3 linked regions of the Homo sapiens genome follow. The protein of the gene in region 1 purifies or fractionates together with the protein of each later gene. This does not show direct contact. Each region holds a gene or a part of one and is shown on either strand. Other genes may lie near its edges. The genes, in order: TEX13B, ARID1B and ARID2.

The links.
Region 2: the proteins of TEX13B (region 1) and ARID1B purify together in Homo sapiens (affinity purification with mass spectrometry; one large-scale study listed by BioGRID and IntAct). This does not show direct contact.
Region 3: the proteins of TEX13B (region 1) and ARID2 purify together in Homo sapiens (affinity purification with mass spectrometry; one large-scale study listed by BioGRID and IntAct). This does not show direct contact.

What each region holds. Positions count from the first base shown.
Region 1 is NC_000023.11:107,980,236-107,983,895, reverse strand, and holds TEX13B (testis-expressed protein 13B), read left to right. Parts: upstream 1-1,525; 5' UTR 1,526-1,586; intron 1,587-1,736; 5' UTR 1,737-1,768; coding exon 1,769-2,227; intron 2,228-2,336; coding exon 2,337-2,816; 3' UTR 2,817-3,032; downstream 3,033-3,660.
Region 2 is NC_000006.12:157,207,378-157,211,130, reverse strand, and holds the end of ARID1B (AT-rich interactive domain-containing protein 1B), read right to left. Parts: coding exon 3,240-3,753; 3' UTR 352-3,239; downstream 1-351. UniProt on the Homo sapiens protein: Involved in transcriptional activation and repression of select genes by chromatin remodeling (alteration of DNA-nucleosome topology).
Region 3 is NC_000012.12:45,900,553-45,904,205, reverse strand, and holds part of ARID2 (AT-rich interactive domain-containing protein 2), read right to left. Parts: intron 1-3,653. UniProt on the Homo sapiens protein: Involved in transcriptional activation and repression of select genes by chromatin remodeling (alteration of DNA-nucleosome topology). Required for the stability of the SWI/SNF chromatin remodeling complex SWI/SNF-B (PBAF).

The sequences.
Region 1 (3,660 bases):
CAATGATCAGCTGTTACTGGGAGAAACATTTTTTTTCAATTTTGAAAAACATAACACGTTTATTATAAACAATTTTACAATAGAGAAAAATGTCAAGAATATTTTTTAAAGTACTGTATTCCTATTACCCAAAGATAACCACTGTTAAAGTGTTAGTATATAACTTTCCAGATTTGTGATGTATGCATACATATAGTTAGTTATATGCTCTTTGTAACAAGCGAAATTAGAGAAAAATGTATTTTAAAGTTAAAAACTTTTTTTCTAACCTCCAGTCCAACCCCACTTCCCAGAGATAATTAATGTTGAGTCTGCTATATATCCTCTCTCATTCTGTTCTCCAAGATTATAGAAACATACAAACATATGCAAACACACACATACACACAAATACGGGATCATAGAAAACATTACTCCTACAACTTTACATGCCCTTTTGTCATTGGCCATCATCATAGATCCATAGGTAGAAACAGATTCAGTTACAGTACAATGTCATGTAATACGTAGCAACGCTGGACTCAACCTGAGATTTGTCTGATTTATCTTGTGGGTCTCAGAAAGTCATTCAAGGTTTTCTTGTTTTTGTGTTTGTTTGTTTGAGACAGAGTCTCACTCTGTCACCCAGGCTACAGTGCAGTGGTGCGATCTCGGCTCACTGCAACCTCCGCCTCGTGGGTTCAAGCGATTCTCCTGCCTCAGCCTCCCGAGTAGCTGGGACTACATGCGCGTGCCACCACATCTGGCTAATTTTTTGTAATTTTAGTAGAGACGGGGTTTCACCCTGTTAGCCAGGATGGTCTCGATCTTCTGACCTCGTGATCCGCCCATCTCGGTCTCCCAAAGTACTGGGATTACAGGCATGAGCCACCGCGCCCGGCCGAAGGTTTTAAGAGACATATTCATATCCCTCTGATGGAAGATCTCTGATATTTCATGTTTTGGTAAAAAGGTGTATTTATGCTACTCCTAACTCTCTTTCTCCCACAGTTGCTTCAAGATTCAAGGCGTTTCAGTAGGGGAGGAGTGGGAGAAGGGGTGATGGGAGGAGTGTGGGGAAAGAGGAGCTAAGGGAGGAAAGGCAGGCCAGGATTTGTTAGGGTGTCTGGGATGTTTAGTCCTGAGCAAACAGGGGATAAGCTCCGCTCCTGGCTCCACCCTCTTCCTCCAAGGGCAACTGAGGGGTTGGGGCTGTTTCCTGCTCTAGAATATTCCAGTTGGGGGCGAAACTCCCCTGGCATGGCACAAACCATTATGATGGGGAGGGATAAGTCTTCAACTTGTTCACAAATACTTTTTTTGGTCCTAAGTCCTTCCGGACCACTCCTGTTTCTTTCAGCCTTCAAGGTCTCCCGACCATGTGGCAGGTTCCCTTTTGTCCCAGTGGAATGGCAGAGGCCTTCCTCACTCACTCCCTTTCACCCCTACAGTCTCTGGAAATTGGAACAGTCCCAGAGTAAAATCCTCATGGGTTGGCCCTGAGGCTTCTTTTCCCGCAGAGCCCTAGGAGGGAAAGAGGCCACCCTCTCTTCAGGCGTGTTAAGCAGCGGGGTTGGCCTGTACTTCCTCTGGCCCTGGCTGAAGAGGTGAGGCCTGGTGGGAGATGTCCTAGGGTAGGACAAGCCGGTCAGAGGGTCATTAGGAGGGTCTTGTCAGAGGTGGGAGGGCGGAGAAGACAGATGAGGGGAGGGGCTAAGGAGGAGGAAAGAAACCTATTGGCTGCTCCATCCACACAGGGCTAGTGAAACCGTTAAGCCCCTAGGCGATCATGGCCTTGAGACCTGAGGACCCCAGTAGTGGGTTCCGGCACGGAAACGTGGTGGCCTTCATCATCGAGAAAATGGCCAGGCACACGAAAGGCCCCGAGTTCTACTTCGAGAATATATCCTTATCCTGGGAGGAGGTGGAAGACAAGCTCAGGGCCATCCTGGAGGACAGCGAGGTGCCCAGCGAGGTCAAAGAGGCCTGCACCTGGGGCAGCCTGGCCTTGGGTGTGCGCTTTGCCCACAGGCAGGGGCAGTTACAAAACCGCAGGGTGCAGTGGCTGCAAGGCTTTGCCAAACTGCACAGATCAGCTGCGCTGGTCTTGGCCTCAAACCTGACGGAACTCAAGGAACAGCAGGAGATGGAATGCAATGAGGCGACCTTCCAGTTGCAGCTAACCGAGACCAGCCTTGCGGAGGTGCAGAGAGAGCGGGACATGCTGAGATGGAAGCTCTTCCATGCCGTAAGATCCCCCGAATGGTCCCTGTCCAATGCCTCTGCCCTGCCCCAACCTGTCCGGACCCCCTGCCCTGTCCCCAGAATGTGTTTCAGCTCTGCCTACTTCTCTCCAGGAGCTGGCACCTCCCCAGGGACAGGGCCAGGCTACAGTGTTTCCAGGCCTGGCCACTGCCGGAGGGGATTGGACAGAAGGAGCAGGTGAGCAGGAAAAGGAGGCGGTGGCTGCTGCTGGTGCTGCTGGAGGAAAAGGAGAGGAGAGGTATGCAGAGGCAGGGCCTGCCCCCGCAGAGGTCTTGCAGGGGCTGGGAGGAGGCTTCAGGCAGCCCCTCGGAGCTATTGTAGCAGGCAAATTACACCTTTGCGGGGCAGAGGGAGAAAGATCTCAGGTCAGTACAAACAGCCATGTCTGTCTTCTCTGGGCTTGGGTCCACAGTCTCACTGGAGCCTCTTCCTGTCCAGCTCCCTACCTCATTCACATACTCATACCCATGCCCTTTGTCCGCCTTCTCAGCCATACCCAATATACCCCCTTCACCAGCAAAGGTCACAGAACGGGTTCCAACTCAGATGCCTTTCAACTGGGGGGCCTCTGATGCTAGCCTGTGGTCAGATGTGGAGGCCCAGGGAATAGACCCTCAAGAGCCCCCAAGAGACAGGAGAGACTCCGAACTCCATCAGCAGAGAAGACCTCCAGTATATCGCAGGCCAGGGAACTGGGACTGCCCGTGGTGTAAAGCTGTGAATTTTTCATGGAGGGAAAATTGCTTCCTCTGTGGGAGGCGAATCTGGCTGCAAAAGCCTCAGTAAATTCAGAAATGTAAAATAGAACAGAAATATATCTCAATGGGAAATCAATCTTCAGGGGGAGAGGGGAGAGGTGGGAGGGGGATTGGGTGGAGTGGGGGAAAGGGGATGAGTGGGAAGATTGGACAGTAGGGGGGCGGGGAGGCGGGGTTGTGGGTGGGAGGATGTAGATGACAGGCAGGGAGAGACATGTTTTAATGACTCCATTTGTATTTCAGAGTATTAGTAGTCAACACTCCAGAACTACTGCAGTTTTTATTTGTGTGTGTGTCTCTAGCTCCCTATCTTAAGTATCTGTCGGACCTGGGCAGTATGTAACACCTACACTCTCTCCCTTCATGTAGGCTTTAGATAATTGGAGCAGGAGTGGATATTTGACCAATCCTGAGCCAAATGAATTTTTACGTTAGAAAATCTGAACAGACAGGCAGATTCCACAGTCAGAATAGTGTTGGGCAATGAAGCAGTGGGTCACTTGGAGTTGGGGCCAGGGTCACAGCCATGGACACCAAGGCCATAGCTGAGGCCTGGCCCTGGCTGTGGGGGAACAGAACTGGATGCTTTACAGAGTCAAGTGTCTTTTAGAGGACGCCAGTATGAGGTTTCAGGGAGCAGACAGGCATAGAGGAGTTC
Region 2 (3,753 bases), on another chromosome or scaffold:
TCAAAGGTGAACAGACATGGGAACAGGTACATGTGGTTTGATAGGAAATGAAAGATTTCCAACAGTTTTAAATGGATGGACTTCAGGGCAAAGGCTGGCTTCTTTTCATAAAGGAGGTAGTTAATAGCTTACATTGTATGAGACTGCCCATATGCCCTTAAAAAAATCATTCTTCATTATAACTCTGAAAAAACAGCTTAACTAGTCTTTGAACAGGCCACCTTCATCAGTAAAACATGCTTCTATATCATTCTCTTCCTCGAACAAAACACTGTGAATAGCTATTGCTGAGCAGACGCCGCCCAGTATCTCTTATGTGACATTAAAAAAATCCACTCAAATACCAACAGATTCAACTTTATAGCACCATTCCAAAATACTAAACTTTCTTTGCACCTTTATTTTTTATCTTTTTTTTTTTTTTGGTACACATGTAAAGTCTGGGCATCCTGTAAATTTCTGAAAAGCCTCATAGAAAAAAAAAAACCGACTAATTTTTAGGACAAAGCAATAACTCAGTTTATAGGCAAGATGATCTCAAGCAGGCTGTAAATTCTTCGTGGGCTTCTGTAAATCTTGATTCGGGGGTGAGAATATGGAAAGGAGGCTAAAGTCTTCCTGGATTAGTCTCTAGAGACTGTGTTGCGCATCAGGATAGAAAAACTTGTTGCCCAACGGTCAGACTCTGCGTATCGGTTACAATGCAAACCATAACAACAGTCTTTTGTTAATTATTTTACTCTTCTGATTGACAAAGGAATTGGAATACTGGATATGTTCGGAGTTTGTATACACCTTTTATTTGTACTCTGTAAGAGAGAAATTAGAATAATATTGAATTCCCTCTTACAAATCTCCATATTTGAAGCTTGGAGCACTGAAATCTGTTCTTAGCAAGCAGATGTATTTAAAGCAGAATTATAAATGGGTCTTTAATTCAACATATATTTGGTTGCATTGTTATGTAAGAAGACTGTTTGACTCAGTAATGTGGGAGTTGACAGATGAGAGACTGTTTGCAGAAAAGATGATTTTTTTCCTCGTGACACTGGAGAGTCACGTCTCACAATGACTGTAACTGCATGTTCTTGTCTAACTCTTCCATATATTACTGTGAGTAATGTGAACCGACACAATGTATGCGAGGGGCTGGGGATTCTGAGTATACTGTGATTGGGAGAGGGAAGAGAAGAGGTAGAGGTCCACTAACAGCATAATTATGCAGCAGTTTCAAAGAAATCGATTATTACACAGTAACAGTCAATGACCCAGGAAGAGAAAGTTTAAATTAGAAGTGACTAGTATTAAAAAGCTACTGTGCACCAGGTAGGAAGGAATATGAGAACCATAATATGCCCTGAAATAGAAATCATCACTTTGCACTATGTACACCACATACAATATAACAGATTCTTTTTTAACATTGCACAGTATAAATATTATACACGGTGGAGTAAACTAAATGCAAAATAACTCTGAGGCACACAGAAGAAACAAGGAATAGATTGAACTTTGATTAAACTAAGATGGAGTTAGTAAAAGGCAGAATGTTACATTTTCAGGCCAGTTAAGCTTCTGAGATCTCACCTCAAGTGGGTCAGCAGCCACCTCCCATAAATACTGAAAATGATCATACCTCAATGTCGTTAGAGTTAATTGCTTCAAAGAAAGACTAATTAGCTAAGTAATTTGAGAAAATCAAACTGTTGCTCCCCACTCTAAAGTAGGTAACCCCTAAAGGTCTCTTCCAAATGTAGGGTTTTATAATGTGAATACACTGCTGCATTCCCCTATTTCTTGTAAATAACTTGATTACTAGGAAACCACTTTAAGGAAACTAGAACAGTATTCAAGAACACCCATCACAGTGCTTAACAAGATTTAATGTACATTTATTCTTAACATGTGGAACATATAAAGATTTTATACTGAATAAATGATATTCATTAAGCCAGAGGAAAAGGAGGAATTTACATCAAGTTTTTTTCTTTTTTTTTTTTTTAAACTACATTATCTTGAAATACAAATGTGGATTCTCATCACTGAAAAATCTTTGAAGTTGTGTTTCTTCCTTTTAGTTGTATTTTTTTCATTTTCTCTTTTTTGACTGTACTGGTAACCATTTTCTAAATCAATCCATATATAACCATTTCCACACCTTGATTCATGAAGCAAATTGTGATCAGCTGCTCTCCTGAAATCGAGCATGACTTTATACATACAGAAACTTGTACATTACCCTCTTTTTTTTTTGTTTTTGTTTTTTGTATTTTTTCTTTCTTTTTTTGGAGATATGGCCCTAATGAAAAAATATATAAAATAAAAATAAAAAATTATTTAAATCTACCATCACTTCGTAGTTACCACATCATGAAAAAGAAACTAAAACTTTGTACTAAAAAAAAAAAAAAAAAAGAAAAGAAAAAAATGAGGGTATGTTTAATGTACAACTTCTATATACATCACAGCCCATAGGCAGTAAAAAAAATATTTAAAAAATGATGAAAGGAATTGTGAAGAACTGTCACGTGGAAGGTCAAACGCCGACAGCAGGCATGACGGGAGTGGTGAGGAGCAGTTTCCGGATCGTTGTCAGGTATGTATTCTCAATCTTAAAAAACATTGTTTTTGCTCCCAGCCTAATGGAACCATATTCCTGTGGAGAAACCAGTATCATTTCATAGTTTTGACTACTGACCGACATACCTCCTTGAGCCCCTATACCTGTATCTGTAGAAATTTCTATTGCACAGAACTTTGGGTGATGGGATGCAGTTTTTTTCATTCTCTGAGGAGTAAAACGCATAGGAAATGGATAATTTTTCACCTTTTTGACTCAGTGTGGTGAAATTTTCGCATCTTAGCATCTTTTGCCACAACTTTTTTCTTTAAAGTCAATTTGCTTCCCCCAAAAATGCAATACAACATGGGAAAGAACATTAAAAAGATCTGTGAAGAACAAAAAGTGACCTTTGAATGCACTAGACAGCAACTTTGGTTAAAAAAAAGAGAAAAAAAAAACCCCAAAGGATGTACTTATACACACAGACAGCAAATATTAATTTCATAACTGTTCAAATTAATTATTTCTTTAATTCCCAATTGGTAAATAGTGAATGGGGCAGAGGAGCAAAGATTTTCTTTTCCTTCTTCCTACGCTGGATAAACAAGAACAGAAAACAGCCAGTTATATGTGACCCTCTAATCTTCACTCACACATGCTTGCCTTCTCACTTATGTCATAACTGCCCAATCTGAAACAGTACATCACAGATGACAGATGCAACCAGAGAGTTCAGGACAGCTGATATCGAGATATCCAGCAACCGGCCCTCGTGCAAAAGGAATTCCGAGCGGTTTTCGTCCACTCTGGCCATGGCTAGCAAAGCCTTGGCCGCCCTGCACATCATGTCTACGCTAGGTGGTTCCAGGGGCGGGGGCTGCATGTGCATGAGGTTGTGCTGGCTCTGCTGGTACTGGGCCATCGTGACCCCATCCTCTAGGAAGCTTATCAAGTTTCCAATGCTTCCTTTCTGCACAGCTATGGCCCTTGCTGCTAGTGCGTCCCCTTGGGCAAGGTTCGATAAAAGCGCCATGGACATTTCTCGACAGACTGGGTTTTTGCGATCCCCAACGTACCTAACTAATGTAGCATAGAATTTCTCCTGACGACTAAATGGAGGAGTGGCCAAGATCAGGTCCACATTATTGTCCTGGATACTGAGTTTACAGAGGGTCTCCAGCACAAGTCTC
Region 3 (3,653 bases), on another chromosome or scaffold:
ACATCTAGCTTAACTATATCCTAAATGCCCCATTAGCCATAAAAGCTGTTTTCTAAAAACTTATCAATCTTAAATTTTCTACCCAAAAGATCACAATATTGATGTGGCTATCTATATAATGAGAGATTATAAAAGTGAGCATCATCTAGCTAAAAAAAAGGGATGCTGGGGGCTGAGAAAAATGGTAAAAATCACCCAGAACTGTGGGATGGATAAATGGACAGATATGTGATAAAGCAAGTATACTAAAATATTCATGGTAATAGCTAGGTGGCAGGTATAAAAAATTTCATTGCAAACATTTCAAATTTGCCTATGTGTGAAAAATTTTATATTAAATGTTAAAAAAAAATATCAGCCAGCATGAGATTACCCAGGAACCTTGGTGCCTTCATTAAAATAACTCCGAATAAAAGAAACTACAGGAGAAAAAAAGAGAAGATGAAGACACGTACATTTTGAATTAAAAAACACTGTAGAAAAGAAGTTTATGGAAAAGATGCAAAAATTCAAAATCAAAATTTAATGTAGGGACTGGAGTCACTTTTACTATAGTAAAGCAAAGGAAAAGAAATGAGCAAAAAATGAGACTGAAGAATAAACAGTTGGGCATCTTTTCATGTTTTTTGGGCCATTTCAGTTTTATGTAGTTTCCATATATACATACCATCACACACTCAAAAGAGTGGATAAAATTAAACATTTTAATTACAATACCAAATGTTGGCAAGTACATGGAGTAGCTGAGACTCTCATACATTTCTATAGAGTGTCAATTGATAAAATCATTTTGGAATTGGTTGGCATCATGTAGCAAACTTTTAACATCTTATGAGTCACCAATCCTTTGAAAACACTCAACAGAAATATGTTCCGTATATGGCCAAAAAACAGAATATGGTTTAGAATGTTTATAGCAGCATTACTCTTAATAGCCCCAAATTGGAAATAACCCATTTGCCCATCAAAAGCAGAGAAAAAAATACAATAATATGAATAAAATACTATCATGCAACAACATGAATCAATCTCAAAAATATAATGCTGAAAATAATATTGTATGATTTCACATATAGAAAGTTCAAAATCAGGCAAAATGAACCTCTGGTGTCACAGATCAGGATAGTGGTCCCTTATAGAGAGGAGGATGGAGTAAAGATTGGAGAGAACATGAAAGATTTCAACTGATATTGCTCTATTTCTTAACTTGGACAGATAGTTATATGAGTGGTTCAGTTTGTGATAATTCACTGAACTTTACACTTCTGTTTTATAAAATCTTTATGATTTTCTTTAAAATTTTATTTAACAACTTTTAAAATAAAGTATGAAATTTCTAAGATCTTTCTGGAAAAGAAAAATTAGTTGTACAAAAATTGATTTAAAAATTTACAAAACGCTTTGGGAGGCTGAGGCAGGCGGATCACGAGGTCAGGAGTTCGAGACCAGCCTGGCCAACATGGTGAAACCCCATCTCTACTAAAAATACAAAAAATTAGCTGGGCGTGGTGGCAGGAGCTACTTGGGAGGCTACTAATCCCAGCTACTCAGGAGGCTGAGGCAGGAGAATCGCTTGAACCCAGGAGGCAGAGGTTGCAGTGAGCCGAGACTGCACCACTACACTCCAGCCTGGGCAACAGAGCGAGACTCCATCTCAAAAAAAAAAAAAATTTACAAAATAAAAATAACTTTACAAAGTACAATCAGTTTTTCCCCACAATCAATGAATATTTTAACAAAGAAAGAAAAAAGACTTTAGTTTCAAAAAGTTAACAAAATCATATTTTTCAAAGTGATAGTCACATGTTAAAAAGTATTCTTTTATTTGAATATTGCATGGATAAAACTAGAAAGAATAAACTGAAATCACTAGGATGATTTTAAAGTAACTAATAATTTCCTTTTTGATATAAATGTTTAATTTTTTGAGGTTTTAAAAAATTAAGCACTCACTTTGTTTTGATATAAAACAAAACATGCCTAATTTGTTTTTTTATAAAATGATATTCTTTCAACTTCTAAATTCACATGTTAGTTTTTTGAGATGATTTAACAAAGAATAAATATTGGGTCACTCTAATATCCTTAACAGATAATAAAAATAATTTCTAAGCAACACTAGTAAAAACCATTTAGGATACAAATCAGCTTCTAAGAAAACAAGTTTAAACAAGTTTCTTTCCATTCCCTCCTCAAAACAGTACGAAGGGTAAAAGAAATTTATTTTTTGCTAGGCGTGGTGGCTCACGCCTGTAATCCCAGCACTTTGGGAGGCCGAGGCAGGTGGATCACTTGAGTTGAGGAGTTCAAGACCAGCTTGGGCAATATAGTGAGACACCCTCCCCCACCCCCCACCTTACAGAAAATTAAAAAATGAACTGTTGGGCATGGTGGCATATGCTTGTGGTCCCAATTACTCAGGAGGCTAAGGTGGGAGGATCACTTGAGCCCAGGAGGTTGGAGGCTGCAGTGAGCCATGATGGCCCCACTGAACTCCAGCCTGGGTAACAGAGCAAGACTCTTGTCTTGGGGGGCGGAGGATAAGCAAACCCCCAAATCCTCAGAAATTTGAGGAATTACAAGGAAAGAGTAACCATACACAGATTGGGAAAAAACTACAAAAGTAGAGGTGTTAATATCCTCAGAGAGATGAGAAGACACCACTAAGAACAGGATGTTATAAAATAGTAACAACTGGCAACCAATAACAAGCTCTTAAAAATTAAGGAAATTTCCGGCTGGGGGTGGTGGCTCATGCCTGTAATCCCAGCACTTTGGGAGGCTGAGGAGGGCGGATCACGAGGTCAGGAGATCGAGACCATCCTGGCTAACTAGGTGAAACCCTGTCTCTACTAAATATACAAAATATTAGCGGGGCATGGTGGTGGGCGCCTGTAGTCCCAGCTACTCCAGAGGATGAGGCAGGAGAATGGCGTGAACCTGGGAGGTGGAGCTTGCAGTGAGCCAAGATCGTGCCACTGCATTCCAGCCTGGGCAACGGAGCGAGACTCTGTCTCAAAAAAAAAAAAAAAAAAAAAAAAAAAAAAAAAATTAAGGAAATTTCCAAAAAATAGATTAAACAGAGAGAAAACAGAAAGCTAAAAGAGAAAAGAAAAAGAAACATACCAGAAAAGTTCCCATTACTGAAGGATATAAATCTCCAGATTGAAAGGACCCACCAAAATGAAATAATGACTTCAATGAAAACAACAACAAAACACCCACCGAAGACACATCATCATCAAGAAACCTCAGAATATTCAGAAATAAAGAGATCACAACAGTTTCTAGAGGGGGGAAAACAGATCACATACAAAGAAATGGGAACCAGAATGTCACTAGTCTTCTCAACAGCAAAGCTGGTGCTAGAATACACCAAAGCAATGCCCTCAGGTTTTTAAAGAAAAATGATTTTTCAATCTAGAATGTTATGTACAGCCAACAACTATCAAGAGTAAGGGTAGATTACAGACATTTTTAGGCATGTAGGGTCTTAAATGATTGAAGGATATGCTTTTGCATGAAGAGAGTAAAACAAGAAAAGAAAATAAATGGGTTTCAACGAAAAGGGATTCAACATGGAGGTAATTCCTGAGAAGAGGTGTGTACCAGGTCCAGAGAGCAACCTGTCTAGACTGCAGAAGAGCAGTTTG